Linked DNA regions of Homo sapiens. The protein of the gene in region 1 interacts with the protein of each later gene in a biochemical or structural test. Each region holds a gene or a part of one and is shown on either strand. Other genes may lie near its edges.

What was found.
Region 2: the proteins of PDLIM5 (region 1) and ID1 form a complex in vitro, tested with the Homo sapiens proteins (one study listed by IntAct).

Annotation. Positions count from the first base shown.
Region 1 is NC_000004.12:94,454,388-94,471,421, forward strand, and holds part of PDLIM5 (PDZ and LIM domain protein 5), read left to right. Parts: intron 1-859; 5' UTR 860-901; coding exon 902-997; intron 998-1,431; exon of another isoform or gene 1,432-1,856; coding exon of another isoform or gene 1,857-2,171; exon of another isoform or gene 2,172-2,797; intron 2,798-17,034. UniProt on the Homo sapiens protein: May play an important role in the heart development by scaffolding PKC to the Z-disk region. May play a role in the regulation of cardiomyocyte expansion. Isoforms lacking the LIM domains may negatively modulate the scaffolding activity of isoform 1.
Region 2 is NC_000020.11:31,594,249-31,610,526, forward strand, and holds ID1 (DNA-binding protein inhibitor ID-1), read left to right. Parts: upstream 1-11,040; 5' UTR 11,041-11,139; coding exon 11,140-11,565; coding exon of another isoform or gene 11,566-11,589; exon of another isoform or gene 11,590-11,804; coding exon 11,805-11,846; 3' UTR 11,847-12,262; downstream 12,263-16,278. UniProt on the Homo sapiens protein: Transcriptional regulator (lacking a basic DNA binding domain) which negatively regulates the basic helix-loop-helix (bHLH) transcription factors by forming heterodimers and inhibiting their DNA binding and transcriptional activity.

The DNA.
Region 1 (17,034 bases):
CGCACACTTAACAGCAGAACAGACAAAAGAAAGCACCGAAGCACTGGTTCTTTTCTAAACTGCCAATTCCATTTGAATGCATTAACCCAGCACTTTTGCTGTATTTAGTCATAATCTTATTCACTGAGTGGCAAATGCTTACTCTCTGCCTGGTGAGGTGTGTGTATAAAACAAAAAGCAGGTTGTGACTAACATCACTGTACTAGAGTATTGCCTATCGTTGACTATCTGAAGGAAAAGTAGATATCACTTTAAGTGTGGAAAATACCATGTCCCCATAGGAGGAAATACAAGTTGTAGTTCATGATTGGAGAGAATAGTTTTGTGCATTGAAAAACAGCTTCTCATTGTAAAGAATTTAGTATTTGGAAAGCATGAATGGGAGCCTACTGATTTGCAGTCTCTTTCACATGTTAGAGTAACTTAGAATTTAAGTAAGTGCAGTTGAAAGACTCTTGTCAATTGCAGACAAAAGAATACATGAAGTGGAGGGAAGGAGAAAATTATTCTGAATTCAACCTGAAATAAAATCTTGCTACATTAGTGAAGTATTGTAAAGTACTTTGAGTTAAACTTTGCATGCAAGAAGCCACAAAATTGGATTGAAGCAAGTTGTGAAACATACTAAGTGTCTAGAAATGTATTCTGATATGGAATTTTTAGACCATGGAAATTGCCATGAGTGTAGAAAATTTATATTAGCTCACAGATTGCTTTTCTTAAACTGAAATTAATGAAGAACTTAATTAAGACTTATCTTCTATATCCTCTCACCCCCCTCAAACAAAATACTAAACATAATTTATGTTCTAGGGTTTCAAGTAAACATTTTTGCTAATCATCTGATTTTCTTTCACAGCATATTTCATTTTCTGTCATTGGACTTTGAGCCATTAGAACCATGAGCAACTACAGTGTGTCACTGGTTGGCCCAGCTCCTTGGGGTTTCCGGCTGCAGGGCGGTAAGGATTTCAACATGCCTCTGACAATCTCTAGTGTAAGTAAACTTTACAAATTTTATTATAGATGTTCATTCAGTGCTTAGTCCTCGGGCTGAGTTGTTTAATTCTCTGTTGACCTGTACTCTACTTATTATCATTGCTCCTGGGATTTGATCTTGGCAAATTTGATTATCTATAATAAAGGATGAGGGGAGTAGATTTAGCAAGGATAACTGACTTCAATTTAACTTCTTTTCGTTTTCCCCCATGTTATCAATAATAAAATGGAAAAAGCATTTAACTAGGAACAGACTGTACATTTTTGAACTGTCCCTAATTTGGGGAATTCTCTGAATCTTCGTTCTTTCATATATAATTTTCAAAGGTTGTGCTATGGGATTTTAATAATCTCTTTCAGTTCCAAAAGCTGTTTGTTAAAAACTGTTGATCAAAATTGAATAAAATGATTGTTTCGGAATTATTTCCTCAGCTCACTTTCTGGTGGAGGTGATAGCCAACAGTAAGATGGCCAAAAGCTACTTACCCTTGAAGAGGAAATGAAGGGCTTGGAGCTCCAACTAGATAGCCTATGAATAATTGAGATTTGGCTTTTTACCTCATTATGGATTTAGTTTGAATGTATTCTGTGTATATATTTTAAGGATATGTTTTCATGATGATGATGATAGCACTGATGAGAGGAGTAATTAAAGCTTCTATTTATTGAGACTTGACTATATGTCAGGTACTGTTTCACTTTCATCACCAGTAGGTAATTATTACTATTATATAAGTTTCTAAAAGGTTTGTTTTTGCATATTCAAATAAATATGAATTTCCATCTTCTTTTACTCAAATGGTGGCATATTATACACACAGTTTTTTTTGAGACAGAGTTTTGTTCTTGTTGCCCAGGCTGGAGTGCAGTGGCGCAATCTCGGCTCACCACAACCTCCATCTCCCGAGTTCAAGCGATTCTCCTGCCTCAGCCTCCCGAGTAGCTGGGATTACAGGCATGTGCCACCACGCCTGGCTAATTTTGTATTTTTAGTAGAGACCAAGTTTCCCTATGTTGGTCAGGCTGGTCTTGAACTCCCGACCTCAGGTGATCTGCCCACCTCGGCCTCCCAAAGTGCTAAGATTACAGGCGTGAGCCACCGTGCCTGGCCCACACTGTTTTATACTTTGCTTTTTTTTGCAACAATTTACCCTGAGATCATTCTCTATTAATATATAAGGAGGTATGTGTGTTTTTTTAAAACAATTGTATAATTTTATTTTATAAGGAAAGTGACATTTAACCAATCCCCTACTGAAGAGTATTTGTGGCATTTCCATATTACTGTTACAGTGGTACAGTGAATACCAAATATAAGTACATACATATATATGTGAATATATGTATCTACGTCATTTTGAAAGGTTGTGCCAATTTACACTTTTGTGCAACGCATGAAAATACTATTTTTGTGCCAGTCTTACCAACAAACTTGGATATTTATCAAGTGCTGTGAATGCATCATCTCATTTAATTATCATACCAACATGCAAAATAGTGATATTATTCCCATTGTATATAACTGTGCTGTGCGCTCACATGACTGTATGGAAGAGCTGGCTTTCCAACAGTTATGCTGTGCTGCCTCTTTAATAATTCACTTTACCTTAAATTTAGTTAGTTGTTTCTTTAATCAGATATTTAGAAGATTGTCATTTTGGTTAATAATATATGTGTATGTATAAATATATATACACACACATACTCTGCATCTTGTATGTGTATCCAACTTCATTTTGAAAGATTAAAAATAAGTTTGTAACGCCTAAATATCCTTATTAAAATACTGCAAATCCCATTTTACTAACGGAGTCTCCTTTGTTTCTTGGCTGTGGATTTTTTTAAAGTTATCTTTAATTTATCATCAATTTCTGCCTTGATTTCAGTTAATTAGATTTTATAAGGAAGTATATATATGTAATCCAGCCTGCAAGTTTTAACACCTTTCATGGTTAGATGAAATTTTAAATGTAAAGCATCCATGTGAAAATGTGTCATGTGATTTATTCCTGTTTGAGTGAGTTGGTATTTTATTTCTTCTACTGATGATCTATTATGGGAACAGGAGCAATCTTTGAGTATTATTGGTTTTTACGTTTTGTTAGCATTTTATATTTTAAATATTCTACTTTAATTATCTAAAGAAAGTTATTAGTTTAAATGCTTACTTTTTTGCTGAAAAAAAGTTCAGAAACAAATTGACACCTAAATGAGCCAAACTTAATTATCACTTTGTTGTGTGGTAATAGAAATGCAAATAGAGTATGTTTGCGAATTTTGTGGTACCGTGTCTTTAAAAAAGTTTCATGTGCTTCAGTTTCCTGGCAGACAGTTTGAGGTACTAGCTCCATGTTGTGATGCTGATACAACAGAACACTGTGTACATACATATGTGCCCTCCCCTGGCACAGAAGAAATGCTTTCCTTGTGTAGACAGAGTGCTAATTAAAGGATTTTGAACATACTGATTAAAAGAGACTATGGTAACAAAGCTGCTGAGTTATTTCTGTTCTCTTACAAAAGTCTCTGCCATCTACTGTGACCTTTTTGGGCCTTGTGCAGTGGGGCATGCAATTCATTCTGGACTGGAGAGGATTGGAAGGGGAGGGGAAGGAGAGAAGGGAATGTTGGCTCAATCGGGCTGCTAGGCTCTTGGCCTTTCATTGTAGTTATTTTTAACCCCTTGTGTGGTTTAAATATGCCTAGTAACATTGCCTAATAAAGGTTTGCGTTTAATAACTAATTTATATTGTGGTAAGATTGTTAATGTTATAAATTTTTAACTTACTCTCATCTTAATTAGTTCTTTGGTTATACTTTTTCTGCCTTAATTATGTAAAATTACTGGGATATTACTGGTCATCAGGTTCTTTAATTAATAGTATCAAGAAACAATTAAAACCTGAAAGCATGCTTAAAACATGTAATTTAATGATTCACTTACTTTAATAATGCACATGAAATTCTTAGCAAGGTCTGGCAGTCTCTCAATTATCTTTTATAATAATATTATAAACTTTAAAAAGAAAACTATTTAGAGACTTGAAACATTAAATATTTAACCCCCGTAGTTGTAGGGAACATACAGTTATGGTTTTGTTTTGTTTTTTTAAACTTATTGTCCACTGAAATTAAGAAAGGAAAAAAAATCAGAAGTTTGTACTTAGCTGGGAATCTGCATCTTTAGAGTTCAAAACTGTGCAATTTTTCCTCTGATTAGGTATTATTATGTTGAACTCCAAAGGGTCATTTACATTCCTTTATAACACTGGAGCTCTGGTGTATCGAATTGTGTTATGAGATAAGCCACTAGCAGGGACTTGAACATTCCATTTTCTTTAGATTTTGTTGTATCAGCATGTGAATATGCTGAATACAACTTGTATCCTAAAGCATACAAGCTATAACATTTTCACGTTGGACTCAAATTTCTTCATCATCTGTATTGTATGAATTTTGTATACTGTTTTGTTGGTGGATTTCTAACATAAGATTGCCAGTTCCTGCTAGCTTTTTAAAAAGATCCTCAGGTTGCTGTAGCTGGATGATCACATGTCATTTAATTTCCGATCCTTAAAATGGAGTGCGGGCTACCTAAGTTTGCAGGCTGTCTTTTTATGATCCTGTGTTTATGGAATTGCCCTGAAGCCATGGAATGTGAGGATGGGTTTCATTGTAGCAGTGTGGGTTTGTTGGTTTTTGCCAGTATATTTTATAACAAGAAATAGGAGACTTGTTGGATAATTCAAGGCTATATTTTGGCCAGTTGATAAAGATTATATATTTGTGAGTAACATCTTTTAAGTTGTTATATCCTAAAGTTGAAATACTCTGCTGTGTGTTACTTTCTCATTATGTTTGGGCTCTTTTCTTCACTGTCAATATTTGGATTACCTGAAGATGATATCCCAATTCTCTGTAAACACATTTTAGATGTTTCTTTAAGAGATAAGAATTAGGTCAAACTTTTTAACATCTAAATAACAATGACTTTGATTCTCAAGAGTTAGGGGAGGATAAATTGTTATAAGCTTGGACAAAATTCTAATTGGATTTGAAAAGCAGAAGAAACTTACTATTGCTTGGATTATGGAGCCCTGTTTGGGAGTCTAACACAGAACAGAGAAGGACAGAATTGTGAAACACTTTGCTATGAATTCATTGATTCAGTAGTTATAGTAATACTTCCTAGAAGCCACTGAAGAAGATACAAAGTGGGGAGTACAAAGGTTGGATGGAAAAGAAATAAGCACAGTGCTATAGAACTAGACAGTGTCGTAAGACCTGTCACAAGTCAATATTCTATGAAATGACAGATTCTGATAAGTGTTTCTCAGTTTCAGTGGGTGTAAATCTTTTGTTTGTGGGGGTTGGTTTCCTTTAGGAGAAGTTAATTGAACTGATCCTCAAAGGATGAAATTTAAACACCTCAAAGTCAGCATTTCTCCGTGTTGTCCAGTGCCTAGTGAAGATGAAGACTTTTCTTGCCATTGCTTGACTCCAAGTAAAGCTGTGAATGTAGTTGAGCGATTCTCCAGACCTGCCAGCTGCAGTTTCCCTCCTACCGGAAGACAGAAAGACTTTCAGTCCTCAAGCTGAAATGAGAGAGCCATCCTACCTTGAATAAATGGGCCCATTGTTAATTTTAAGCTCTTGAGTATTTTCTTTTATATTCCCTCCAAGCTACCCTGTCATTATGCCAAGTTAGAAAATTAATTTAGTTTGTATAACTATATGATGTATATTTCACATGTGTGTTCACTCTGCTTTAAAAATATTAATTACCTTTTGTGTGAAGTTCAGAGACCTGTCTTTTCCCATGTGGCAGTTTTATATGTTTTGTGGTCACAAATGTCAGGAATCTCAATGTAATTCTGGATAAATTTTTCTGCTCTATGATTTGTAAAGAAATGAAAATCTTATATTTTTTAATTGAAAATTAGTAGTTTTAGAAAAAAACGCACTTATTTGATTTTAGTAAACGTTGGGCATTTTGAAAAGTTATTCAGAGAAATGTTACTGGTAGGCAGGACTTTTGTATCTGATGGAGGAAACCGATGTAGGGTTTGGATAAAATAAGACTAGCAGGCTGGGCACAGTGGCTCACTCCTGTAGTCTCAGCATTTTGGGAGGACAAGGTGGGAGGATCACTTGATACCAAGAGTTCAAGGTTACAGTGGGCTGTAGTCATGCCACTGTACTCCAGTCTGTGCCACAGAACCAGACCCTGTCTCAAAAAAAAAAAAGAAAAAAAAAAAGGTAAGAATAGCACTTTAGACCTTGGGAAAGAACGTTTTCATGTAACTATTCATCTACTCGTGAGTTAGGTATATCTACCTACTTAAACTAAGAATAGATAGATAATAGATAATGTACAGCTGTATATTGGAATGACTTGGATTTAAATCTTAGCTGGAAAATCAGTTCATTAATTTGAGCTTCTGATTTTCTTTGATGTATGGGAAATGCTTTATAAATTAAAAAGTATACAGGTAGATTTGATTATTATTAATAATTTGGAGCCTGTGAGCTTTCAATTTTTTTTAGAACTTCTGAGGCAAAGAGCTTTTCTTTATGATAGTTGCTAGTCACACTACATGTGAATACACAGTTGAACAGTGGTCTTTGTCTATGACATCCTGTTAGCAGTAGTTCTTACCCAGATTCCCATATACCACAGGACCAGTTATATCTTTTTCCCCCAGTTACAACTGTATTGAGGACAAATCAGTTATGATTTAGTTATTTCTAGAAGCAAACGTTGCTTTAGACAAAAAAGGAGTTATTTAGCATCGTATGAGAGAGAATTATGTTTCAACTTTGGCAGATGAGACTCTAGGCCTTTATTTCAGTATCTGAGATGCAAAAAATATTGAGTACGTGACATAAAATTTGACAAAACTAGATATTAGCATGTGAAATAACAATATGTGGATCTGTTTGCAAATAAATGACCTAATGGAAATGAAAAGAGAAAACATTAAGTAACTAAAGAGCAGTGACCATGGTGTCTACTGATTCTTTAGGTATTCTATGTGTTGGGCCACTATATAGTCTTGTTGAGAAGGCAGGTTTGGTTCCTTAATTAACAGAGAGGGAAAAATCACTTTTCTAGCGTACTTTGTTTTTATTAAGAGGTTTTTTTTTTAAAGGTAATAAACTAAGAATGGACAAAGCAGAGAATATTGAATGAGTATCCCCTTATTCCTTCACCTTTCTTATTTTTTTGTTTCCTGTTTAAGTATAGTTATCTACCCTTCTGTAAATACTCAGATTTCTTTTATAGCTGATGTTGTCACCCATTTTTTATGACAATTACTAGAACAGAGTTCACCAACCTTGTTGGCATTTAGTAACTGGACTCCCAACTGGGCTAAGCAGTTGTAGTAAATGTCCCTAATAGGCGTAAATAGAGGAGAGTAAAATGAACTGGAAATGTTAATAGGAGGGAATGAGAAAGAAAAAGTTAGATGAGAGAAAAAAATAAAGAGGACTTTTTAAAAGGCTGCAGCGTGTCACCCAGGCGGGAGTGCAGTGGCGCGATCTCGGCTCACTGCAACCTCCACCTCCTGGGTTCAAGCAGTTCTCTGCCTCAGCCTCTTGAGTAGCTGGGATTACAAGCATTCGCCACCATGCCCAGCTAATTTTTTTGTATTTGTGGTAGAGACAGAGTTTCACCATGTTGGCCAGTCTGGTCTCGAACTCCTGACCTTTGATCCAGCCACCTCAGCCTCCCAAAGTGCTGGGATTACAGGCGTGAGCCACTGCACCCAGCTTAATTTTCTTTAGGTAAGACATTCATATGGTTCAAAATTCAAAAGATACACGAGCGTATAGGGGGAAATGTCTCCTGGTGCCCTGCTGTTCATTTCCTCCTCCTGGAAGCCACCTGTGTTAGTAGTATACTTCCAGAGATAATCTATAGGTATATCTCCTCCCCACCCTCCTTTTAACACAAATAGTATGCTTAATAGAAATACTTTTTTTTTTGGCATTTTGTTCACTTAACCCAACATCAGTAAATATATCTTCATTCTTCATTCCTTTTTTACCACTACACTGTGTTTGGATTTGTCATAATTTTTTAAATCAGTTCCTATTGATAGACAATTAGATTTTTTTCTAGTCTTATGCTTTTACTGACACTGCAGTGTAAGTTTTGCCCATATATGTATATATATATGTGTAGACATTTAAATTTTTTCTAGTCTTTTGCTTTTACTGACATTGAATTTAAGTTTTGCCTATATATGTGTATATGTTTGTATATTTGTATATTTGTCACATAAATTCCTAGAAATGGAATTGATGAGTCAGAGGGTGTATGCATTTGTAATTTTGACTGATATTGCCGTCTTTATAGAGACACTCCTGCTCATAATATGAGGATGCCTATTTCCCCATACCTATGCTAGCCTAAGTTTCAACAGACCTTGATCATTTCCAATCAGATGGGCCAGTTTCCACCTGTCTTCTTTTTACAGGGCTCAGTCACAAGTATTTTACAAAGGATTTTCTGTGTTTTCAAGTGGTTTGTTTTCCATTTTGCAAGATAATCTAGGAAATAAAAACATGCTGCTCTTCTTTAAATGATACCATTAATTTCTTAAAGATGCCATTTTCTGAATTCTTTCGTCCAGAGCTTTTGTTAGTAATTATCTCCATCATTTGTTTCCCATTTCTAAACTAACTTCCTCTCTATCTTAACCTATTACTCCCAGTTACATGGCAAAAGATTTTGTGTTTTTGGCATAGTGCCCTGTCATAGACTTTTTGGAAAATTAAGCAAATCACATTTAATAGATTCAAAGTTGTTAACTTTGGAATCTGTTCAGTAGGCTGATATACAATCAACCCTTGAACAAAACAGGGTTTAGGGGCACCAACCCCCTGTGCAGTCAAAAATCCATGTGTAACTTTTGACTCCCCCAAAACTTAGCTACTGATAGCCTACTGTTGATCAGAAGCCTTACCCATAATATAAACAATTGATTAATGCATATTTTGTATGTTATAATATTAAATACTGTATTCTTAGAATAAAATAAGCTAGAGAAAACATTTAAAAATAAGGAAGAGAAAATATATTTACTGTTCATTAAGTGGAAGGGAGTCATCATAAAGGACTTCATTCTTGTCATCTTCACTTTGAGTAGGCTGAGAAAGAGGAGGAAGAGGAAGGGTTGGTCTTGCTGTCTCAGGGTGTGCCAGGTAGGTTAGGTGGAGGTGGAAGGGAAGCAGGAGAAAGCAGGAGAGTTGGGCACACTTGGTGTAACTTTTATTGAAAAAAATCTGTCTGTAAGTAGACCCGTGCAGTTCAAACCTGTGTTGTTCAAGGGTCAACTGTATGTGTGGTTTTGAATTCTAGTCTTTAGCTCCTTTTAAATGATGTGACAAGGAGACTGACCATTATGAGGTGTTCACTATGGTCCGAGGAATGGCAAATTTCACCCTTATGAGACTCAGTGTGTTTTTATTATCAACCTTTATTAGCTAATGGAAGTTAACTGAAATCAGGTAGGTTTATAGAGTGTTCTGTAGCATAGTGAGTCAGGCATTGTGAAGGTATACTAATGTGTGGCACAAGGTAGTTACTCATTTTAGCCTAGTGTGAGCAGCAGAGTGTATGTGTTGGTAACTATAGTAACAAAAAGAGTAAGGATGCCAGGGATATTTATATTTTTTTGTAGTAAAGATGAGGAAAGGAGGAATTTCTCTTTAGTGTGTTGCTGTAAATGTTAAATATGATGAGAAGAGTTTTGAATTAGAGAAGAATTTGCAACACTTGTTATTTGGATTCTGTGAATTGTTAAACATTTTTTTCCCCAAGGTCCAGAGATTGATTTAACAATGGCCACTGTACTTCATGATAATTGTCCTGGCTAAATTTTAATTGAAGAAAAGAGAAAGTAGTTACGGTAATGACATTAACAATTTAATGCTGTTTACCATTGATTGGATCAGGGATTTAAGTGTTGTGATTCAGTTCCATTGAGATCTAATTAACAGCCCAGTATTTTTCAAATGATTTCTGGGATATTAACTTTTGGAAGTGGTAGAATTAAGAGATTTAGTAAGGCTGTATAACACTAGCCAGAGCAGACTATGTTCTGAAAGTATGTTTGTTCTGAAAGTATTTTTCTTCTGAGAAAACGTTACCGGAGGACAGATGTCCTTTAGAAAACAAATGTTTTGTCCCTTAACTAGGACCCCTTAGAAATGTTCTGGAGAAAGAAATTATATCTAGCTAGCTAGCTATCGTGTTACACATATAATTTCCATGATTTTGGTCATTCCTTTGAAGTATCTTTATGCTACTCACTTGCAAATATCCTACAAATGGTTGTTTTGATCTTTTTAGGGTAGACGTTTCTGTTTTGTTTAAATGTACCTCTGTCTATTCTGGAAGATTCTGGTTATTTGGTGTCCAGTTCTCTGAGTGATTCTTTGCTATTTTAGCAGACAAAAGTATTTCCAAAATTCATCAATGGCTTATTCTCCTTCAGGCTGGTTCCTTATCCTCAGGCTAGCATCTTGACTAGGCAATAATTTTAGAAACTTATATTTAATATATTACTGCCTTATTTAAGAACTGTATGAGCTTCCCATTATCTTTTGAATTATTACTTAATTTCTCTGGTTGGTTTTCAAGTTGCATATAAATGGGCCCGTTTAATATAACTTGAGTTTATAGTCCAAAATGCCAATTTTGAACCCTGAAGTTCTTAGTCTTTTTATTCTTTTTGCATACTACTTTTGTTTATTCTTATCATCCCTAAAGCCCTATCTCTTCCTCTAGGAACATTCATGTATCCTTTGCTCTCTGAAATGTTTGACTATTCCAGTTCAATTCGGTCTCCTTTCTTTCCTGTATTAAATAATAATGATAATAATGAAAATATGCTAACGTTTATTGATCCCTTGTTACTGTTTGGGTCCTGTTCTAGATGTTTTGTACATGTTCGATTATTTAATTCTCATAACAGCCCCATGGGGAAGTGTGATTTTATTTTATTTTAGTTTTATTTTTTTGAGATGGAGTCTCGCTCTGTCACCCAGGCTGTAGTGCAGTGGCATGATCTCGGCTCACTATAACCTCCACGTCCTGGGTTCAAGCGGTTCTCCTGCCTCAGCTTCCTGAGTAGCTGGGACTACAGGCCTGTGCCACCACACCTGGCTAATTTTTGTATTTTTCTTTTTTTTCAGTAGAGACGGGGTTTCACCATGTTGGCTAGGCTGGTCTCAAACCCCTGACTCCCGCCTCAGCTTATCAAAGTGCTGGGATTACAGGCATGAGCCACCTTGCCCAGCCAGGAAGTACAATTTTAAATCTCTGATTTAGAGATGAAGAAACTGAGGGGCAGAGAGGTTAAGTAACATGCCCAAAGTTACACAGCTGATAATTGGTTAGGCTCAGGATTTGAAACCAGCCAAACTGAGTAGTAATAATGTGTTTACCTGTTATGCTCTTATTTCCGAGGAATAGATGACAGTTCTCACTAGAGATAGCCAAATTTGTGTGTTTGTGTATGTGTGTGTATGTGTGTGTATGTGTGTGTGTGTCTGTTTCTTTTTTTTTTCCCCTTTGTTTTTGAGACAGGGTCTTGCTCTGTGGCATGGGCTGGAGTGCAGTGGCACTGTCACAGCTCACTACATCCTTGACCTTCTGGGTTCAAGTGATCCTCCTACCTCTACCTCAGCCTCCCAAGCAGCTGGGACTGCAGGTGCATGCCACCATGCCTGGCTAATTCTTTAATTTTCTGTAGAAACAGGGTCTCATTATGTTGCCCAGGCTGATCTGTAACTCCTGACCTCATGTGATCCTCCCATCTCAGCCTCCCAAACTGTTGGTATTATAGGCCTGAGCCACTGGGCCAGGTCTGTGTGTTTCTTAACCAGAGAATAGATCCTAGAGAATCAAAAACTTGTATGTATGGGAGTAACTGAGATTATTAACAAAAAAATATATAACTGGTTTCCAGACTGACTAGTAGTCAGAATCATCAGTGAGACTTTGAAAGTGTGGATCCAAGGACTTTGACACAGACTTTGAATTTAGGATATTTAGGGATTCATTAGATTCCACATTTTTAACATGCTTTCTAGATGTTTCACCTGCACCAGTTGGGTTCCATTTTGTATACTTATGTTTGGGAACCATATGTAGCTTTGCTTTTGTAAAAACAAAAAAAAAATTTTATTATAGAGCTTTTGTTACTTAGATCATTTCAGCAAAAATGTTAAGGGTAAGTTACTTGGAATTTGAACTGGAGTTGACTAAATAATGTGACAGATCTGCTTTTCTCTAACTGCCAGCCTCTTCCTGATTTTTCAGAGTTCAGTCACCATAGGTCAAGTCTTTTATAGAAGTAAATGGCAGTTTTAATAATATATGATGTCAGGTATTAGTTACGTTTATGATGCTGTAAACACCTTTATGACAAATGAAAGATTTGGAGGACTTTGAAATTGGCATGCTATTTATAATATTTTAATGCTTTAACAGTTAATACGGAATGTTAGATTTACCAGAGACTTACAGAGAAATCCTTGGCTATACTAGGTTTTGTTTTACACCTCATGATAAAGTGGTTTCATTAAAGTTAAAACAAACAAGTTACAGTCTTTTAAGGCCATGGCCAGAGAGATCAATTCAAATATTTGGACTCCATGTTAGATTTCACAGCAGTACAGTTTAAGTATAATGAATAGTTCATGTATTTTGTTAGATCATGAGCCTCTCTTATCACTCAAGAAAACCCCCGAGTCTTATTTATTCAAGATTACTTTAGAATTCCCAGTACATGTTCAGTAACTATTAATGATCACAGTGGTAATAGAGAACGAATGGGAAGCTGGGTTGCCATTGCAATCAAGTTTCTTCTAGATTTGTTAATGTACCTGATTGATAGAATTAACTGAGGAAAGTTTTTTTTTTTTTTTTTTGAGACGGAGTCTCGCTCTGTTGCCCAGGCTGGAGTGTGGCGGCATAATCTCAGCTCACTGCAACCTCCGCCTCCCGGCTTCAAGCAATTCTGTGCCTCAGCCTCCTGAGTAGCTGGGATTACAGGCACCCACCACCATGCCTGGCTAATTTTTGTATTCTTAGTAGAGACAGGGTTTCATCATTTTGGCCAGGCTGGTCTTGAACTCCTGACCTCGTGATCCACCCGCCTCAGCCTCCCAAAGTGCTGGGATTACAGACATGAGCCACCGTGCCTGGCCTAATGAGACATTTTAATGAAACATTTTGGTTTTCCTTGTTTTCAATCCTAATCAGGATTTAAGTTTCTAGGAAGTATCCTAGAGGTTACATTATATGATAGACCCTTACTTCCCAAGGTGGTCTTCCCATGTGTCAGCCAGGATTTGTTTTTTGTCTTTCCGACCCAACAGTTCTACTTCTTTTCTTTAGTGCCCTGCACAACAAACATGCATGTTTGCACATTACAGCCTTTCAAACAGGGGAATGAGTTATATTTCCCTTTGAGTCTTGTGGATATTCTGTAAGAAGCCATTTCTTCAAATGTTTCTCTCATGACAGCTTCCCTATCTTCACATCCCTTAGCATTTACCTTTAAAAGTAGTTTAGGTTTTAATTGTCTCTTTAAGTCAACTCCTAGAACTGAACCTAATACCTCAGATATGTTAAGACCAATGCAAAGTTTTAATTATGAAGTAAGGAAACTGATTTTTGTATGACTTGATGGTGGGATTTAGAAGCTGTTCTGAGCAATGAGCTTGATGGAACTTTCACTTTTTTCCCTCTATGCACTTTTTTTTTTGGGATGGGGTCTTGCTCTGTCACTCAGGTGGAGTGCAGTGGCACAATCAGAGCTCCATGCAGCCTTGAACTCCTGGTCTCAAGCGATCCTCCTGCCTTAGCCTCCCAAGTAGCTGGAACTGCAGGTGTGCGCCACTGTGCCCAGCTAATGTTTTACATTTTTTGTAGAGATGAGCTCTTGCTTTGTTGCCCAGGCAGGTCTCAAACATGTGGGCTCAAGTGATCCTCTGGGATTACAAGAATGAGCCACGGTGCCTGGCATCTGTGCACTTTTGTACTGCTTGAAATTTTTACAATTTCTATGTCTTCTGTTTAAGAGAAGACATAAAAAGGAAAGAAAACTAAACCTAGTCTGTGCTCTGTCCATGTGCATATTTAGGCTTGTCTGGACATAATATGGAGATTAGGAGAGCCTAAGAGAAGCAGATGTTTTTGTTTGTTTTGTTTTTAGGTGCATATGTCTGTGGTGTGTGTTTGGATGAGAAATCAAAGACTCATGAGAATAAATTTAGGAAAAACATAATTGAGGTGTAGTCAAACTTAGTCCTTGTCGATTTTATTGTTACTACTTACTATCTTTTAGGAGAAGTGGGTAAATTCTCAGTATGGCAGGTTATGTCCTGTTGGTATGGTTTTCTGAATGACACATGTCAGAGCCATAAGAAGAGGTGTTAGTCAACACATATTTATTGATCTCTTACCATGTTCTGGGCCTTGGATATAGAGTGTGCTTTTCCATTTTCTGACAAAGGCCACATGGCACATGATATGAAATGTAGGAAGGAGATTGGACATAGGAGAGGACATAAATGTCATCAGATCTAGGAAAGGAAAAGATGAGCGTTGATCACATAGCCTGTGTCAGGGTTGCAGGGAACTTCTAGACTAGGATTTATAGAACCCATGGGGCAGACACAAAAGTAGTAGTGGCAGACAGAATCATTTATTCTGTATCTTTATTGAGTGCCAGCTATGTGCTCTGTACTGTTGTATGCACTGAAAATACAGTGATAAACAAAACAAAGTTATGTACCTTATAGTCTAGTAAGGGGGAATGGTAACTCACACACAAAAAAAACAAAAAACATAAGCAATGTAATTTAATAAGGTGATGTGCCAGAGAGTAACTGGAGGAAAGGGATGGGTGTTTAGGGGTAAGAGTTTCATTTTTAGATTGGACAGTCAATACAGGCCCTCTGAGGAGGCAGCATTGACCTAAGAATGAGAACTAATCACGTGAAGAGCTGGGAAAACACATTGCAGGCACAGAGATTAGCAAGTGCAGGGGCCTTGAGACAGGAAAGAGCTGAATGTGTTTAAGAAATAGAAAGAAGGCTAGTGTGGCAGGAATGCTGTGAGCAAGGAGGAAAGTGGAGTGAGAATAGGGAGTATGTCCAGTGCCAGGGTGAGAGATAAAGAGGTTCCTGGTAATGAGGAGGATAACATTGGAGGCCATGGTAGGACAACTCCTGGGGATTTTAGATGGATTTTGATTCCTCTGGATTAGAGCTGAGCTAGAGAGAGTGGGTTACTATTATGGTGATCTGACCATATCTCCAGGCTGGTATGTTTCATAAATTGCTTTTGATAGAAATTCCAGGGCAAGAATTTAAAATTTTTTTTGAGCAAAGGAATAACTGTATAGCCTTCTGAGGTGACTATTTGGAAGTGAAACACTCATTTAAATATATGTTTGTCTTGAAAATTTTTAGTTATAGTTCTAACACATACATGATTTTTTTTCATTATTTGCACACTGATTATATTTTTCCTATTTTGCATTCTTTTAATTTTTTTTTTTTTTTTTTTTTTTTGAGACAGAGTCTCACTCTGTCGCCCAGGCTGGAGTGCAGTGGCGTGATCTCGACTCACTGCAACCTCCGCCTCTCGGGTTTAAGTAATTGTCCTGCCTAAGCCTCCCCAGTAGCCGGGAGTACAGGCACATGCCACCACACCCGGCTAATTTTTTGTATTTTTAGTAGAGAGGTTTTCACCATGTTAGCCAGTATGGTCTTGATCTCCTGACCTCGTGATCCGCCTAGCTCGGCCTCCCAAAGTGCTGGGATTACATGCATGAGCCACTGTGCCTGGCCTAAATTTTGTTATTTTTTATTGTTAGATGTAGCTTGTCTCCCAGATGGCTTCTGTTTTCCTTTCCTTGTGATGTTACGACCTTTTCTACTTTAATAAAGAAATGTTGCATACACATTCAGGAGTTGTTTACAAATTATGCTGGTAACACATTTATTAGAATTTGCCTCAAAGACAAAGTGAGTGTTAGGATGTTTATTCTAGGTCAGATCTGTTGAGCTGAAAAAATTTTTACAGTATATCTATTTTTAAAAAGAATATTTTAGCCAATTGGTTGGCTAATATACCCAATGCCAAGAGTTACATTTTATGACCCTTTTATTATTTCTAGTGGAGGGTGTGTATAAGTTTTAATATGTTTTTCATTTCTGAACTTTCAGAGAGATCACTTGATTAGAGTTAATGTCTAGTTTCAGTAAATTCAGATTTTCAGCCTTCAACATTGTAATTGACAAAAATGTCATCAGTATCATATAGCTCTAGGTCCTCAGTAGTAGATAATAATGTCTACATTATGAAGTAGTAAATTATGTAACTTCATACTTCATATTTGTATTGGTCTGTTCTCACACTGCTAATAACATATCCAAGAGTGGGTAATTTATAAAGGAAAGAGGTTTTTTAATTGACTCACAGTTCCACATGGCTGGGGAGGCCTCATAATCATGGTGGAAGCGAAGGAGGAGCAAAGTCACATCTTACATGGCGACAGTCAAGAGAAGAGATCATGTGCAGGGGAACTCCCCTTTATAAACCCATCAGGTTTCGTGAGACTTTTTCACTATCATGAGAGCAGCATGGCAAAGACCCGCCCCCATCATTCAGTTACCTCCCACCAGGTCCCTCCCATGACATGTGGGAATTATGGGAGCTACAATTTGAGATTTGGGTGGGAACACAGCCAAACCATATCAATATTCAAGATCAGCTTTTTATAAATTCAGGGTAGCAAGTTTTTCTGTGAGTTTTGGGGTATAGTTGCAAAATACTACTTTAAAACCAACTTATAAATTACCTGTTATATTAAATATGATAACACAATACACCATAAAGTCTACTTGAGAGATAGTTTCGTAAAAGATTTTATCTTAGATTTAAAGTAATCTAATAGTACTTAAATTTCTAGGCTTAAAAAAAAAAACTTCAGTTAACCATGATTA
Region 2 (16,278 bases), on another chromosome or scaffold:
TGGGCCAGGCTGGTCTCGAACTTCCGACCTCATATAATCTGCCTGCCTTGGCCTCCCAAAGTGCCGGGATTACAGGCGTGAGCCACCGCACCTGGCCTTTCTGCAGGATTCTGAATTGTGTATGTGTGGAGAGTAAGGGGACTGTGTGCTCTAGAAGGGCTGTGGTGGGAGGTCTCTGGCCTGGTGCAGGTGGGTGTTGGTTGGGTCTGTGCACTGTGGGAGTGGGTGCCTGCAGGAAGCCAGTTTATCCTTTTGCAGGCAGTGGACTTCTCTAAGGCTGCGGGCATGTGTGTTGGCATCTTGGAGTCCCAGGTGTTTTGGCGTGAGTAATACTGTATAGATGTAAGTGTGTGTAGTGTTTGCAATGTTGTAGTGTGGGTGCATGTGTCTGTGTGTCCTGTTTGTTGAGAGGATTCATTGCATGTGGTTCTGTTAGGAGTGATAATGGGGTGTTTTGAGACATTTCCTCCTTGGTCTCTATTTTTTGGTGTGTTGGTTATGCAGATTTGGTGTTTCGGTAGTGTGCGCGGAGGTCAGTGTGTTGGTTGTATATTATGGTGTACTGTTGTGCGTTGTGCATTTGGCAGGTTGTGTCTATTGGTGTGTGGCTGTTGGGTTTGTCTGTTGTGTCAGTCGTACATATAAATGCCACGTTGGGCGTGTGGGTGTGTGCATTTGTATATTGCTCTGTGGGTGTGCGAAGCAGTGTGTTTGTGTAACCCTGCAGGTTTGGCCTATGCTGAGTAACCTAAGATGGGAGCTCCCTGAGCCTTGGCTCTGCCCTTGCCTTTGGCTGCTGGAGACCCTGGGCAGCAATGGCCCTTTGTCCAGCCACAGGAAAACCCCACCCCCCTCCATCGGCAGGGGACTTGGGAGGGGCCCAGACTGGTAGGCTCCAGCCTCCCGTCCATTGTTCTGGGGCCTCTCTGGAAAACAGGATGGGAGGTGAAAGGTGGACACAGGCCTGGACCCCCACACTCCCTGAAACAACCCAGGGGCACAGCACAGAATCCTTAGGAGGGAGGGCCTGGGGACAGTCCCCATTTTGTGGATGAGAAAACTGAGGGGTTTCATTCCTATTAAAAGGGAGAGAGCCTGAAGCCCCACACCCTTTATGTGCCCACCCACAGCCTCCTGCCGGGTTTGGGGGATGGAAAAATGACACCCCAGAATGGAAACAAAACGGTCTATTGTGGTTTCCATTTCTGAATGCTTACCATGTGCTAAGTGCAGAAGTGTCATAACTCTGCAGGTTAAGTTCATATTTTGTACCCATTTTGCACAGGAGTACACTGAACCATAAGGCAACAATTTATTCTTCAAAGGACACTACTCTAAACATTACTGTATTTCAAGTAGTACGCTGTGTGACCTTGAGCAAGTTGCTTACCTTCTCTGGGCCAGGCCCTAGTTCAGCTCTGGGACACAGCAGTGACCAAAGGAGCCGTGGTTCCTGCTCTCTTAGAGCCCATAGCCTGGGCAGGGAGGAGGAGGCAAGGAATGGCAAATACACAAGAAAACAAAGATCATTTCTGATGGTAATGAATTCAGTGAATAAGAGCAGGAGAATGTAAAAGAAAGTAGCCTAGGGGGATCTGAGAAGGCCTCTGGGGAGGCGACATTTGACCTGAGACTTGAAGAATGAGGAGTCTGGCAAAGACCTGGGGCTGATCAGTGTTCTAGGAACAAGTAACAGCAAGGGCAAGGGCCCTGAGGCAGGACAGAGCTATTAATAGTTTAAGGAGGGAGGCCTCTGGGCTGGTGAGAGAAAGGGAAGGGGCCCAGTTGGGTAGTGGGCAGGGGAGGAGTTTGGATCTTATTCTCCGTGAGATGTGCTGGTTCTGGTGGTAGTGGGGGGGCCTGTAGTCTCCTGTTACAAGGGTTGGGGGTGTGGGGACAGCCAGAGCCAAAGGTCTCTCCCCCACAGCTCCGGCAGTCCCAGCCCAGAGGCGCCGGCCTGGCGGCTGGAAGATTGCACTGTGGGCACATCTGGGGAGCAGCTGCCGAGCCAGGGCCAGAGTGGGTCACGTGGCACAGGGCAGGACCGTCCTGGAGCCTACAAGGCCAAGACTCCTAGGAGGGGCAGTGGAGAACACTCTGGACGAGAACAGTGCGTCAACGAGGAGGAACTGTGCACTGTAGACGTCCAGGCACACGGCCCCCTGCAGCCCCACACAGCCCCTGCCTCAGGACAGAGTGCCTGGGTTCAATGCCACCTCCCAGCTTTGTGATCTGAAACAAGTCACTCAACCTCTCTGGGTCTCATGGCCTCAGCTGTGAAGGGGACATGATATTACTACCACAGTTCCACAGGCTGTTCTTTTTTTTTTTTTTTTTTTTTTTTTTTTTTTAATTTTTTGAGACGCAGTCTCACTCTGTTGCCCAGGCTGGAATGCAGTGGCACCATCTCAGCTCACTGCAACCTCTGCCTCCCGGGTTCGAGCGATTCTCCTGCCTCAGCCTCCCTAGTAGCTGTAGTAGCTGGGACTACAGGCTCCCGCCACCAGGCCTGGCTAATTTTTTCATATTTTTAGTGGAGATGGGGTTTCACCATGTTGGCCAGGCTGGTCTCAAACTCTTGACCTCAGGTGAACCACCCACCTCAGCCTCCCAAAGTGCTCCCAGGCTGTTTATTTCTAATTCAACAAATATTCGTTGAGCACTTCCCACATGCCAGGTGCTGCATGAGGCTCTGCGTGACAGCAGGGAACAGGACCTCCGTGGTCCCTTCCCTTCTAAGCACACAATTAATGCTTTAGAACCAGGCCTGGCATTGAGGAAACTCTTAGTAAATGTAAGCCATTTGCCTGGAGCTCTGGAGGCCAGAGGAGGCACCCTGGAAGGCAGAGAAGGAGGTGTGGTGACAGAAAAATCCTAAGGAAAGTGCACTCCCTTTTATCACCAGGTGCTGCAGTTGGCTCCTGGTATGGCTCATTTCACTCTCACAACCACCCTACGAAGAGGGATGAGCATTAGCTCCAATTTATGGATGAGGAAACTGAGGCCCAGTTTGTCAATGGCACAGCCAGGACTGGAGGCAGTGAAGGGCTGGTCCCTTTTTCTCTCTGGGGCTCAATATTCCCATCTGTGAAATGGGGCATTACAATAATACAGCTGCACCAGCTCCAGGGAGCAGTTGTGAAATCAGATGTGCCAGGTATGTGAAAAGGGCTTCCTGAGAGACTATGACCATGAATGCTGGGTTGGGAATATGGGGGTTCATTTAAGGAGCCCTCCGAACTTCCTGGCCACCAGAAGTGTCGGTTTTCCTAAGGTGACTCAGGAAAGGAGGACTGGGAAGAAAATGCACACTCAATTCACACTACCAACAAGGCCAGAAAAATGCCCATCTGACAACAAGATAAGCAGGCAATCTTTATTTAAACTCCTTGTCAGGCCTTAAACATGTAAAAGATAAGGCCAGGTGTGGTGGCTCATGCCTGTAAATCCCAGCAGTTTGGGAGGCCAAAGAAGAAGGATCACTTGAGTCCAGGAGTTCTAAACCAGCCTGGGGCAACATAGTAAGACCCCTTCTCTACAAAAAAATAAAAAATTAGCCAGGTGTGGTGGTACATGCCAGTAGTCCCAGATACTTGGGAGGCTAAATAGGAGGATCGCTTGACCCCAGGAGGTCGAGGCTGTGGTGAGCCGTGATTGCACCACTGTACTCAGCCTGGTGGACAGAGAAAGAGCCTGTCTCCAAGAAGAAAAAATTGCATAGAACTGAAAACACACACAAAAATTAGTGCATATAAATTGGGTGAAAACTGAATTTCATGCCATGCGCGGTAGTTCATGCCTGTAATCCCAGCACCTTGGGAGGCCAAGGCGGGCAGATCATCTGCAGTCAAGAGTTCAAGACCAGCCTGGCCAACATGGCAAAACCCCATTTCTACTAAAAATACAAAAAATTAACCAGGCGTGGTGGCGTGTGCCTGTAATCCTAGCTACTCGACAGGCAGGACAATTGCTCGAATCTGGGAGGCGGAGGTGGCAGTGAGCCGAGATCGCACCACTGCACTCCAGCCTGGGCGACAGAGCACTCTGTCTCCAAAAAAAAAAAAAAAAAGGCCACGCGTAGTAGCTCACGCCTGTAATCCGGCACTTTGGGAGGCCGAGGCGGATGGATCATCTAAGGTCAGGAGTTCAAGACCCGCCTGACCAACATGGTAAAACCCTGTCTCTACTAAATACAAAAAATTAGCCAGGCGTGGTGGCGCGTGCCAGTAATCCCAGCTACTTGGGAGGCTGAGGCAGGAGAATCGCTTGAACCCGGGAGGCAAAGGTTGCAGTGAGCCAAGATTAATGCCATTGCACTCCAGCCTGGGCAACAAGAGCGAAACTCCATCTCCAAAAAACAAAAAAGAAAACTGAATTTCACCTGAATTCTGGTTGTGATATTGTACTGTAGTTATACAACATACCAACTGTTGGAGTGTTAGAGAGGATGTGGAAGAACTGGACCTCTCAAATACTGTTGATAGGAATATAAAATGATACAACCACCTTTGGAAAACAGTTTGGCTGGGTTTTTTTGTTTTGTTTGGAGGCAGGGTTTTACTCTGTTGCCCAGGGTGGAGTGTAGTGGCACGATGATCTTGGCTCATTGTAGCCTCAACCTCCCAGGCTGAAGCAATCCTCCTGCCTCAACCTCCCAGGCTGAAGCAATCCTCCTGCCTCAACCTCCCAAGTAGCTGGGACTACATGTGTGCACCACCACATCTGGCTAATTTTTGTACTTTTTGTAAGAGATGGGGTTTCACCATCTTGCCCATGCTGGTCTTGAATACCTGAGCTCAGGCATTCTGCCTACCTCGGCCACACAAAGTGCTGGGATTACAGGCATGCACTGTGCCCAGTGAGTTTGGCAGTTCTTTTGTAAAGTTAAACAAATACGGCCAGTTGTGGTGGCTCACGCCTGTAATGCCAGTACTTTGGGAGGCCGAGGTGGGCAGATCACTTGAGGTCAGGAGTTCAAGATCAGCCTGGCCAACATGGTGAAACTCCATCTCTATTGAAAATACAAAACTTAGCCAGTCGTGATGGTGGGCGCCTGTAATCCCAGCTACTCCAGAGGCTGAGGTGGGAGAATCGCTTGAACCCAGGAGGCGGAGGTTACAGTGAGCCAAGATTGTGCCACTGCACTCCAGGCTGGACGACAGAGCAAGACTGAGTATACATTCACATAAACACCTGTATACAAGAGTTCATGGCCAGGCACAGTGGCTCACCCCTGTAATCCCAGCACCTTGGGAGGCTGAGGCAGGCGGATCACGAGGTCAGGAGATCGAGATCGAGACCATCCTGGCTAACACGGTGAAACCCCATCTCTACTAAAAATACAAAAAAAAAAAAAAAATTAGCCGTGCGCGGTGGCAGGCGCTTGTAGTCCCAGCTACTCGGGAGGCTGAGGCAGGAGAATGGCGTGAACCCAGGAGGCGGAGCTTGCAGTGAGCCGCAATCTCGCCACTGCACTCCAGCCTGGACGACAGAGCGAGACTCTGTCTCAAAAAAAAAAAAAAGTTCATAGCAGTTTTATTTTACTAACCAAAAACTACGAACAATCCAAATGCCCCTCACCAAATGTCTGGATAAACAAATGGTGGTATATCCATATAATGGAACACTACTTAGCAATAAGAAGGAATGACCGCCGGCCCGGTGGCTCACGCCTGTAATCCTAGCACTTTGGGAGGCAGAGGCGGGTGGATCACCACCTGAGGTCAGGAGTTGGAGACCACCAGCCTGGCCAATGTGGCAAAACCCCATCTCTACGAAAAATACAAAAATTAGCCAGGTGTGGTGGCAGGCCCCTATAATCCCAGCTACTCAGGAGGCTGATGCAGGAGAATCGCTTGAACCTGGAAGGCAGAGGTTGCAGTGAGCCAAGATCGCACCACTGTACTCCAGCCTGGGAACAGAGCGAGACTCCGTCTCAAAAAATAAAAAGAAAAAAGGCCGGGCACAGTGGCTCACTCCTGTAATCTCAGCACTTTGGGAGGCCGAGGCAGGTGGATCACAAGGTCAGGAGTTCAAGACCAGCCTGGCCAAGATGGTGAAACCCTGTCTCTACTAAAAAAAAAAATACAAAAATTAGCTGAGCATGGTGGCGGGCACCTGTAATCCCAGCTACTCGGGAGGCTGAGGCAGAGAATTGCTTGAACCTGGGAGGCGGAGGTTGCAGTGAGCTGAGATCATGCCACTGCACTCCAGCCTGGGCGACTTGAGTGAGGCTCTGTCTCAAAAAACAAAAAAGAAAAAGAAAGAAGGCCAGGTGCAGTGGCTCATGCCTGTAATACCAGCACTTTGGGAGGCCGAGGTGGGCAGATCACGAGGTCAGGAGATCGAGACCATCCTAGCTAACACGGTGAAACCCTGTCTCTACTAAAAATACAAAAAATTAGCCGGGCGTGGTGGCGCGTGCCTGTAGTCCCAGCTACTCGGGAGGCTGAGGCAGGAGAATGGCGTGAACCCAGGAGGCAGAGCTTGCAGTGAGCTGAGATCGTACCACTGCACTCCAGCCTGGGCGACAGAGCGAGACTGCATCTCAAAAAAAAAAAAAAGAAGAAAAGAAAAACATTAGCCAGGCGTGGTGGCGGGCACCTGTAGTCCCAGCTACTCAGGAGGCTGAGGCAGGAGAATGTCATGAACCCGGGAGGCGGAGGTTGCAGTGAGCCGAGACCGTGCCATTGCACTCCAGCCTTGGGGACAGAGCGAGACTGTGTCTCAAAAAACAAAAAACAAAAACAAAAAAAGACCGGGCGCGGTGACTCACGCCTGCAAGTGTAGCATTTTTGGGAAGTGGAAAAGGGCGGATAACCTGAGGTCAGGAGTTCGAGACCAGCCTGGCTAATGTGGCGAAATCCCATCTCTACTAAAAATACAAAAATTAGCCAGGTGTGGTGGTGGGCACCTGTAATCCCAGCTACTCGCGAGGCTGAGGCAGGAGAATTGCTTGAATCTGGGAGGTAGAGGTTGCAGTGAGCGGAGATCGTGCCATTGCACTCTAGCCTGGGTGACAGAGCGAGATTCCGTCTCAAAAAAAAAAAAAAGTGGATAGAAGGATATGCATAGGTTTTATACAAATACTATGTCATTTTATTTATTTTATGTATTTATATTTTGAGACAGGGTCTTGCTTTGTCACCCAGGCTGGAATGCCGTGGTGGCATCTTGGCTCACTGCAATCTCCACTTCTTGGGTTCATGAAATTCTCTTGCCTTAGCCTCCCAAGTAGCTGGGATTACAGGTGTGCACCACCACGCCCTGCTAATTTTTCTATTTTTAGTAGAGATGAGGTTTCACCATGTTGGCCAGATTGATCTCGAACTCCTGACCTCAGGTTATCCACCTGGCTTGGCCTTACAAACTGCTGGGATTACAGGCGTGAGCCACTGCGCCTGGCCCTGAATTAATTTCTACAGCATAATTTTCTCTCTTATTTTTATTTTTTTGAATCAGAATCTCACTCTGTCGCCCAGGCTGGAGTGCAGTGGCTTGGTCTCGGCTCTCTGCAACCTCCACCTCCTGGGTTCAAATGATTCTCCTGCCTCAGCCTCCCAGGTACTTGGGACTACAGGCGCCCACCACCACACCTGGCTAATTTTTGTATTTTTAGTAGAGACTGGGTTTTGCTATGTTGGCCAAGCTGGTTTCTCTGGAATTCATTGCAGTAAACAGAATTGCTGGATCAATTAATTCACAGTTGAAGGCCAGGCACTGTGGCTCACGCCTGTAATCCCAGTACTTTGGGAGTCTGAGGTGGAGAGATCACAAGGTCAGGAGTTTGAGACCAGCCTGGCCAACATAGTGAAACCCCGTCTCTACTAAAAAGACAAAAAATTTAGCCTGGTGTGGTGGCGGGCACCTGTAATCCCAGCTACTTGGGAGGCTGAGGCAGAAGAATCGCTTGAACCCAGGAGGCGGAGGTTGCAGTGAACCAAGACTGTGCTATTGCACTCCAGCCTGGGTGACAGTCTGAGACTCTATCTCAAAAAAAAATAAATAAATAGTTGGTGATGGCCAGGCACGGTGGCTCATGCCTGTAATCCCAGCACTTTGGGAGGCCAAGGCGGGCGGATCACCTGAGGTCAGGAGTTTGAGACCACCCTAGGCAACATGGCAAAACCCCGTCTCCACTAAAAATACAAAAATTAGATGGGCGTGGTGGTGGGTGCCTGTAATCCCAGCCTGAGGCAGGAGAATGACTTGAACTCAGGAGGTGGTGGTTGCAGTGAGCTGAGATCGCGCCACTGCACTCCAGTCTGGGCAACAGAGCGAGACTCTGCCTCAAAAATAAACAAAAATAAACACTTGGTGATGAATTAATACTCTAATTTCCTCTGGTTGACTGTTGTTCTTCCAATTATTTGGCAATTCTTTTGAGCAGCAAACTATTCCCTCCCATCATTAATTTAGGATTGCTAAACAAGGCGTAGGGAGTTTAGAGAGTTTTGGTGTGTGTGGTAAGGGGATGAGGAGTCTGGCTAATTAATTGATGATGTCTCTCTCTTTTGAAGCTGGTCTCACTGATTGGTTTGGTTTTCCTGGTTTCCTGATGTGGAGGCAGAAGGCTCCTTTACTTTTCCCTCATCCCCCGAACTTCTGTGGGAAAACGGAACCTGCTGATAACTCAGTGAATTAATTGCTGCGGGGTAGTGCGGTGGAGCGGAGCAGGGAGGGACCATAATATCACCCTCCACTGGTGAGCACAGATTTTTACCCCTGCTAATGTTGTGTGGCTTTGGGTGACTAATCTGAGCTTCGGTTTCCCCACCTGTGGCATGTCCAGGACTCTGCAGTCAGACTGCCTGCTCTCAGCAGGAAGCGGTTGCATTACAACACTGTACCCTCCTTATAATAACACAACTATGGTTATGACTTAGGCGTCGTGTGGAGCCTCAGTTTCCTTTGTATAAAGAAACCAAAGAGCTCCTTTCTTTAGAGTTGTGAAAAAGACTACAGAAGTTGATCAAGCCGGGTGACAGAGTAAGACCCTGTATCATTATTATTTTATTTTGAAACAGAGTCCCACTCTGTCGCCCAGGCTGGAGTGCAGTGGCATAATCTCGGCTCACTACAACCTCCGCCTCCTGGGTTCCAGCGAGTCTCCTGCCTCAGCCTCCTGAGTAGCTGGGGTATTACAGGTGCGCGCCACCACACCTGGCTAATTTTTCATTTTTAGTAGAGACGGGATTTCACCATGTTGGTCAGGCTGGTCTCGAACTCCTGACCTCGTGATCTGCCCACCACGGCCTCCCAAAGTGCTGGGATTACAGGCGTGAGCCACTGCGCCCGGCCCCCTGTATCCTTTTTTTTTTTTTTTTTTTTGAGACGAGTCTCACTCTGTCGCCAGGCTTGAGTGCAGTGGTGCGATCTCGGCTCACTGCAACCTCCGCCTCCCAGGTTCAAGCAATTCTCCTGTCTCAGCCTCCCGAGTAGCTGGGATTACAGGCGAACGCTACCATGCCCGGCTAATTTTTGTATTTTTAGTAGAGATGGGGTTTCACCATATTGGTCAGGCTGGTCTCGAACTCCTGACCTCAGGCAATCCACCCGCCTCGGCCTTCCAAATTGTTGGGATTACAGGCGTGAGCCACCGCGCAGCCCTTCATTTTTTAAAATAAGAAATAAATGAAAAAAGATGATCAAGACAAACTCTTCATACAGTGCCCGCTGTACAAAGTAAGAAATTAATAATGGTCACGTTTGTGATTATTATTTAAACACCAAGCAGATATTAAATATTAGGGCTCAGAGAGGGCATGCGACCCGCCTGAATTCACTCAGCTGCAGAGCTGGAAAGAGAACTCAGGCCTTTTTCCCCACGCTGGAAGGGGTAGCTGGGGCGGAGAGGTGGGGGGAGCGGTGAAGAAACCCCAAGCGGCCCAAGCTGTGGGTCTGGGTTGGGAGACTCGCAGGTGTGGGGCGGGGAGGTAAGGTGACCCTTGCTCAGCGACCGCGCCCGCAAGAAACGCATTCCCAGGCCTCCCGCCCGGGGTCTGCAGGTGACGGGCTGGGGGGAGCACGGGAACTAGCTAGACCAGTTTGTCGTCTCCATGGCGACCGCCCGCGCGGCGCCAGCCTGACAGTCCGTCCGGGTTTTATGAATGGGTGACGTCACAGGCCTGGCGTCTAACGGTCTGAGCCGCTGGTTCAGACGCTGACACAGACCGGCCCGGGAAGGGAGGGGGGAGACTGTAGCTCCGCAGCTGCCGCGCCGTGGGAGGGAGACCCTGCTCTGAGGTCTTTGAGAAGAAAATTTAAAAAGCAGCCAAAAATGGGAAAAAACATTAAAAAATCACGAACTGTTGCAGGTTCAGGAAATTTTTGCAAGGAGCTGCAAATTCAAGGTGGAATCGAATGCAGCCTCACTCCACTGCGCTCTATCTAGTTCACTTCCCAGCCACCCAGCCCCAAACTTACTAGACTTTCCCGAATTAATTGCTCCCACCCGGGAGGGATCTGGGTAGGCCCTCCGGGTCTCAGGAACACGAACAGCAACATTATTTAGGAATTGAGAAAGCCCAGGGGAGCAGATGTAAAGGAGCGCCCGCTTTAAATTTCGGTCCTGATATTTGTAGATCAGGGTCCGAGAAGCATCTTCCAAGAGGGTCCGGAAACCCAGGCTCTCTGGGCTATCCAGAGCCAGCCGCTTCTCCGTTCGGGCCTCAATTTCTCTCATCTGTGAAATGGAGCTGGAGAAGTGAGAAAGTGAATATGGGAAAAACTGATTCCTGAGGTCTTTTCATTATAAGGCAATGCCTGCTTAGCTTCCTTGCCTCCTTCCAGAGGAGCCCAGTGCGGCCCTCGCCTCTACCCGCTGCCCTGCCCGGTGCCCTGCCACCGACCCACCCTTGCTGTTCTGAAACCCGGGTCGTCTTTCCACACTGCGAGCAGGCACTAGACGAGCAGGAGGCTGGACCTAGGAGCGCGGGTCACGCCCCCATGCCGCCCATTGGCTGCTTTTGAACGTTCTGAGCCCGCCCCTCCGGGGGCCGTGGCGTGTTTATAAAAGACAAGCTGTGGCTCCGCACTCTCATTCCACGTTCTTAACTGTTCCATTTTCCGTATCTGCTTCGGGCTTCCACCTCATTTTTTTCGCTTTGCCCATTCTGTTTCAGCCAGTCGCCAAGAATCATGAAAGTCGCCAGTGGCAGCACCGCCACCGCCGCCGCGGGCCCCAGCTGCGCGCTGAAGGCCGGCAAGACAGCGAGCGGTGCGGGCGAGGTGGTGCGCTGTCTGTCTGAGCAGAGCGTGGCCATCTCGCGCTGCGCCGGGGGCGCCGGGGCGCGCCTGCCTGCCCTGCTGGACGAGCAGCAGGTAAACGTGCTGCTCTACGACATGAACGGCTGTTACTCACGCCTCAAGGAGCTGGTGCCCACCCTGCCCCAGAACCGCAAGGTGAGCAAGGTGGAGATTCTCCAGCACGTCATCGACTACATCAGGGACCTTCAGTTGGAGCTGAACTCGGAATCCGAAGTTGGAACCCCCGGGGGCCGAGGGCTGCCGGTCCGGGCTCCGCTCAGCACCCTCAACGGCGAGATCAGCGCCCTGACGGCCGAGGTGAGATCCAGATCCGACCACTAGATCATCCTTATACCGACGGGGAAACGGAGGCCAGAGAGGGCGTGGGCGCTTGCACCACTTCCGTCCCATCCTTGCGGGTACCTGGCTATGCGGGGGTGCCTAAGGAGCCTGGAAAAAGCGCTCCCCCGTCGTGCTTCCTGGGGAAGGGGGCGTTCGCTGCGCTCGGAGCGGCGTCCCTTCCAACCCGCCGGTCTCATTTCTTCTCGTTTTCACAGGCGGCATGCGTTCCTGCGGACGATCGCATCTTGTGTCGCTGAAGCGCCTCCCCCAGGGACCGGCGGACCCCAGCCATCCAGGGGGCAAGAGGAATTACGTGCTCTGTGGGTCTCCCCCAACGCGCCTCGCCGGATCTGAGGGAGAACAAGACCGATCGGCGGCCACTGCGCCCTTAACTGCATCCAGCCTGGGGCTGAGGCTGAGGCACTGGCGAGGAGAGGGCGCTCCTCTCTGCACACCTACTAGTCACCAGAGACTTTAGGGGGTGGGATTCCACTCGTGTGTTTCTATTTTTTGAAAAGCAGACATTTTAAAAAATGGTCACGTTTGGTGCTTCTCAGATTTCTGAGGAAATTGCTTTGTATTGTATATTACAATGATCACCGACTGAAAATATTGTTTTACAATAGTTCTGTGGGGCTGTTTTTTTGTTATTAAACAAATAATTTAGATGGTGGTAAAGTTGTAGTGACTTCTTGGGTTGAGGGGAGGGGCCTGGGCTGGGGGTTGACCCCTGACCCTCTTCACAGCTGGTTCTGGGAGGAGAATTGGAGGGCTACATCTGGATTGTTGCTCTTACCGGCCTGAATGAGTGTTTCCGGTGTCTTTAAAGTCTATTCTTCCCCCACCATCCCTGCCCATTTCCCTGCTCCCCAGTGTTATAAAACTAAATACTCCAGACCTCTGGGGTTTCTCACAGTGATCATTGGGCCATCTAGATCACCTGGGGAGGTTGTTAAAATGCAGATGAACCTGCCAGGGCCCCCTCTGTATTGGGAGTATTGAGCAAGCCATTTAAGTTGGAGAACCTGGCCGCTGGACCACCCACTTCCTTGCCAAGATGTGGATAAAGTGAGACCCAGTGGAAAGGGACTTGCTTAGGGCCATAGCTTGTGAGAGGCAGTGATTCTATCACCCCATTCCCCAGTTGGAGGTGCCTCCCCCAACAGCCTACCTCTGGGTTCCAGCAGGCAGCCCTGGGGCTCCTGGCTCATCCAAGTGGGTGAGCAAGTTGGCAGGGCCAGGCTGGGCACAGCTGCCGAGACACCTGCTCTGGGTCCAGACTCGGCCTCCTCACTCTGGCCTGGCTCTGTCGGCAGTTCAAACAAATCTCCCCCACCAACCCCGGGGCTCCTGCGTAGGATCTGAGGAGTGGACGAGTCTCATTACCCAGCTCCTGAGCAGGAAAAATATGTCATTGGCAAGGGTCTAAGAATCTTCCTGGACATGTATGTGGATTTCTACTCAGGGGAGCATGTATGAGTGTCTACGCCTGTGTATGTAACAGGAGTAAGCTGATCTTCCCCCACTACTCCCACAGTGGGGATGGGCCAACTGTTCACATATAGGCTTGGGGGAGGGGGTGTAAGTAGGAGTATGCTTGGGGGTGTGTGCAGAAGGGCAAATGAGAGCACATGTGTTCTGCAGATAAGTGTGGAACCTCCAGCTGTTTGGGCTTGTGTGTTCTGCCTAAATGCATTGTAGGCATCTCTGCATGGGTCTGGCATGATGGATGGGTTTGTGTGTCTGGGGGCCACAGAACCACACTGTGGGTTTCTGTGTGTATAACTGTTCTATAGATTGGTTGGCATTCCTGGGCCTCTGCGGGTCTGGAGTGAAGGTGGGGACAGCTGTGTTTGGGCAAACCCTTCCTCAAAAGTTCACGTGGCAACTCCCTGGGCTATCGTTAGGTCCTGGGGGCACCAACCCTCAAGGATTGCTGCCAGGTAAACCCCCCTGTATTACATATGGAGAAACTGAGTCCCAGGAATGACAAAGAACTTGTCCCAGACAGGTAAGGGCTATTAATATATTTTGTCAATAAACAATAGAATAAAATCAATAGCCCTTAGCACCAGAAGCCTGGCTCTGCTCAACTGAACCCTTTACAAAAACGATTTCATGGATCCCTGTGGGGCTAAAGGCAAGACTGTGATCCCAGTTTTACAGCAGAAGGAACAAGCTCAGAGAGGGGATGAACAAAAAATCAAATGAAAGATTATGATTTGAGCACTAACATTAAGCCAGGTACACCCCCTCCACAGTTTATGGATTTTATCGAAGAACCCAGTACTTGCAGGCGAATTATGTTCTTTGCTACCTCCTCCCCACCGGCTGCTGTATTACAGTACTAACCTCACGGAATGTAGTACAGAATAAATGAAATAAAGTAAGTGTGTAAAACGTTTAGCACAGTGCTTGGCACAGAATGTTTCATAGTTATAAATTATTATTGTCGCCTGTGAGTCCTTGGAGTGTCCTCGGAGGCACACGTGTGCACGCACGCACTCTCACGTGTGGGCCCCCGCCTGCAAGCCCACCCACGGGGTCTGAGCGGGTTCCCCCTCGCGTACTCCGACATGCAGGGCCTTTTTCCAGGGGAGGAAGGGGCTGCGGCGGGGGCCTGGGCCACCTCCCCCGCCATTCAGGCACACTCTGGATTCCACGTTTCCCTCTGTTCCCCTTTGGCCCAGACCCAGCCCATCTGGAGGCCGGCTCCGCGGCGGCCTGGGAGCGTTTCCATCAGCTGGGCCCGAGGAATGCGGAGCTATTTAACCTGAGCATCCCCAGGTGTACGGAGGCGCCTGGCTGTCTGGGGCCCGCAGCCTTTGGCACAGCCGCGCTAGACAAACAGCGCGCCGCCCCCGCCCTGCCCCTCCGCCCCCAGCTGCAGCCGGGCCTGGGAACCGGCGGGCGCCGGCGGCTTGCATAAGAGGCTCCGGGCCTCGCAGAGGGAGGGGGGACAGAGGCCACCGGTGTGTGTGCATGTAACACACAAAACCCTGCTCCTTTGGAAATCATTAACTCCTTAACCCCTCCTGGACAGGACGAAGCCAGGAGCTGGGGTGGAAGATGCCGAGAAACCCGAGGACCAAGTTTCTTGGGCACTGGACTCTGCCTTTCCGGGGCTGTACTGTTAATTTTATTTAAGAAATACAGAGAGCTTATTGTGTGCTGGGCACCATGCTAAACTCTTTACAATATCAATTCATTTAATCGTCAGAACTTGTTAACGAGGCCAGTGCTATCATCATATGCTCATTTTAATAAGAGCAACCACCACCACTACAACAAGAGTAATAGGCTAACATTTTAGTAGGGAGGCAGGTAGAACACAAGCCCAGAATCAACCTTGATGCTCATCACTTCACCTGTCAGAGCCTCTTCTTTTTTGGAAAACGGGCTTCAGAACCTGGGCTTCAAGGATTAATTGAACCAATGCACCTAAAAAGCATAGCACAGGCTCATGGTAGATACTTAGTGCATATTGCAATAAAGTGTTTTGAGCGGATTGTCTCAACAGCCCTACCAGGTGTGGGCCTACTGGTATATTCACTTTTTTGGTTTTTTTGAGACAGAGTCTCCCTCTATTGCCCAGGCTGGGGTGCGGTGGCACCATCTTGGCTCACTGCAACCTCCACCTCCCAGGTTCAAGTGATCCTCCTGCCTCAGCCTCCCGAGTAGCTGGGATTACAGGCACGTGCCACCATGCCCAGCTAATTTTTGTATTTTTTTTGTAGAAAAGGGTTTTCACCATGTTGGCCAGGCTAGTCTCGAACTCTTGACCTGAAGGGATCTGCCCACCTCAGCTTCCCGAAGAGCTGGGATTACAGATGTAAGCCACCGTGCCCGGCCTGTGTTCACTTTTCAGATGAGAAAACGGAGGCATCAAAGAGGTGAGGTGACCCACCCAAGGCCACATTGCACATTACCTTAGAGGACTTTCCAGAAATCAGACTTGTCTAAATCAGGTTTATGAGGGGCCTCATGTTCCCACAGTATGTCCAGTTTATAAAGCCTTTCATCTTATTTCCAACTGAAATCATACCTGGTCATTATATTTATTTGTTTTAAAAGCATAACTCAGATAAATGCAAGAAATATACACATATCACAATTTTTGCAACCCATATTGGGGAATGTCTATTTTTTTTTTTAAGACAGTTTTCCTCGTCACCCAGGCTGGAGTGCAATGGGGCGATCTCGACTCAACCGCAACCTCCGCTTCCCAGTTTCAAGCAATTCTTCTGCCTCAGCTTCCCAAGAAGCTGGGATTACAGGCATATGCCAACACGCCCAGCTAATTTTTGTATTTTTAGTAGAGACAGGGTTTCACCATGTTTGCCAGGCTGCTCTCGAACTCCTGACCTCAGGTGATCTACCCTCCTCAGCCTCCCAAAGTGCATGAGGCCACCGTGCCCGGCTCTTTTTTTTTTTTTTTTTTTTTTTTTGAGACAGAGTCTCGCTCTGTCGCCCAGGCTGGAGTGCAGTGGCGTGATCTTGGCTCATTGCAACCTCCGCCTCCCGGGTTCAAGCAATTCTCATGCCTCAGCCTCCTGAGTAGCTGAGATTACAGACGCGCACCACCACATCTGGCTAATTTTTATATATTTAGTAGAGACGGGGTTTCACCATGTTGCCCAGGCTGGCCTCGAACTCCTGACCTCAGGTGATCAGCCCTCCTCAACCTCC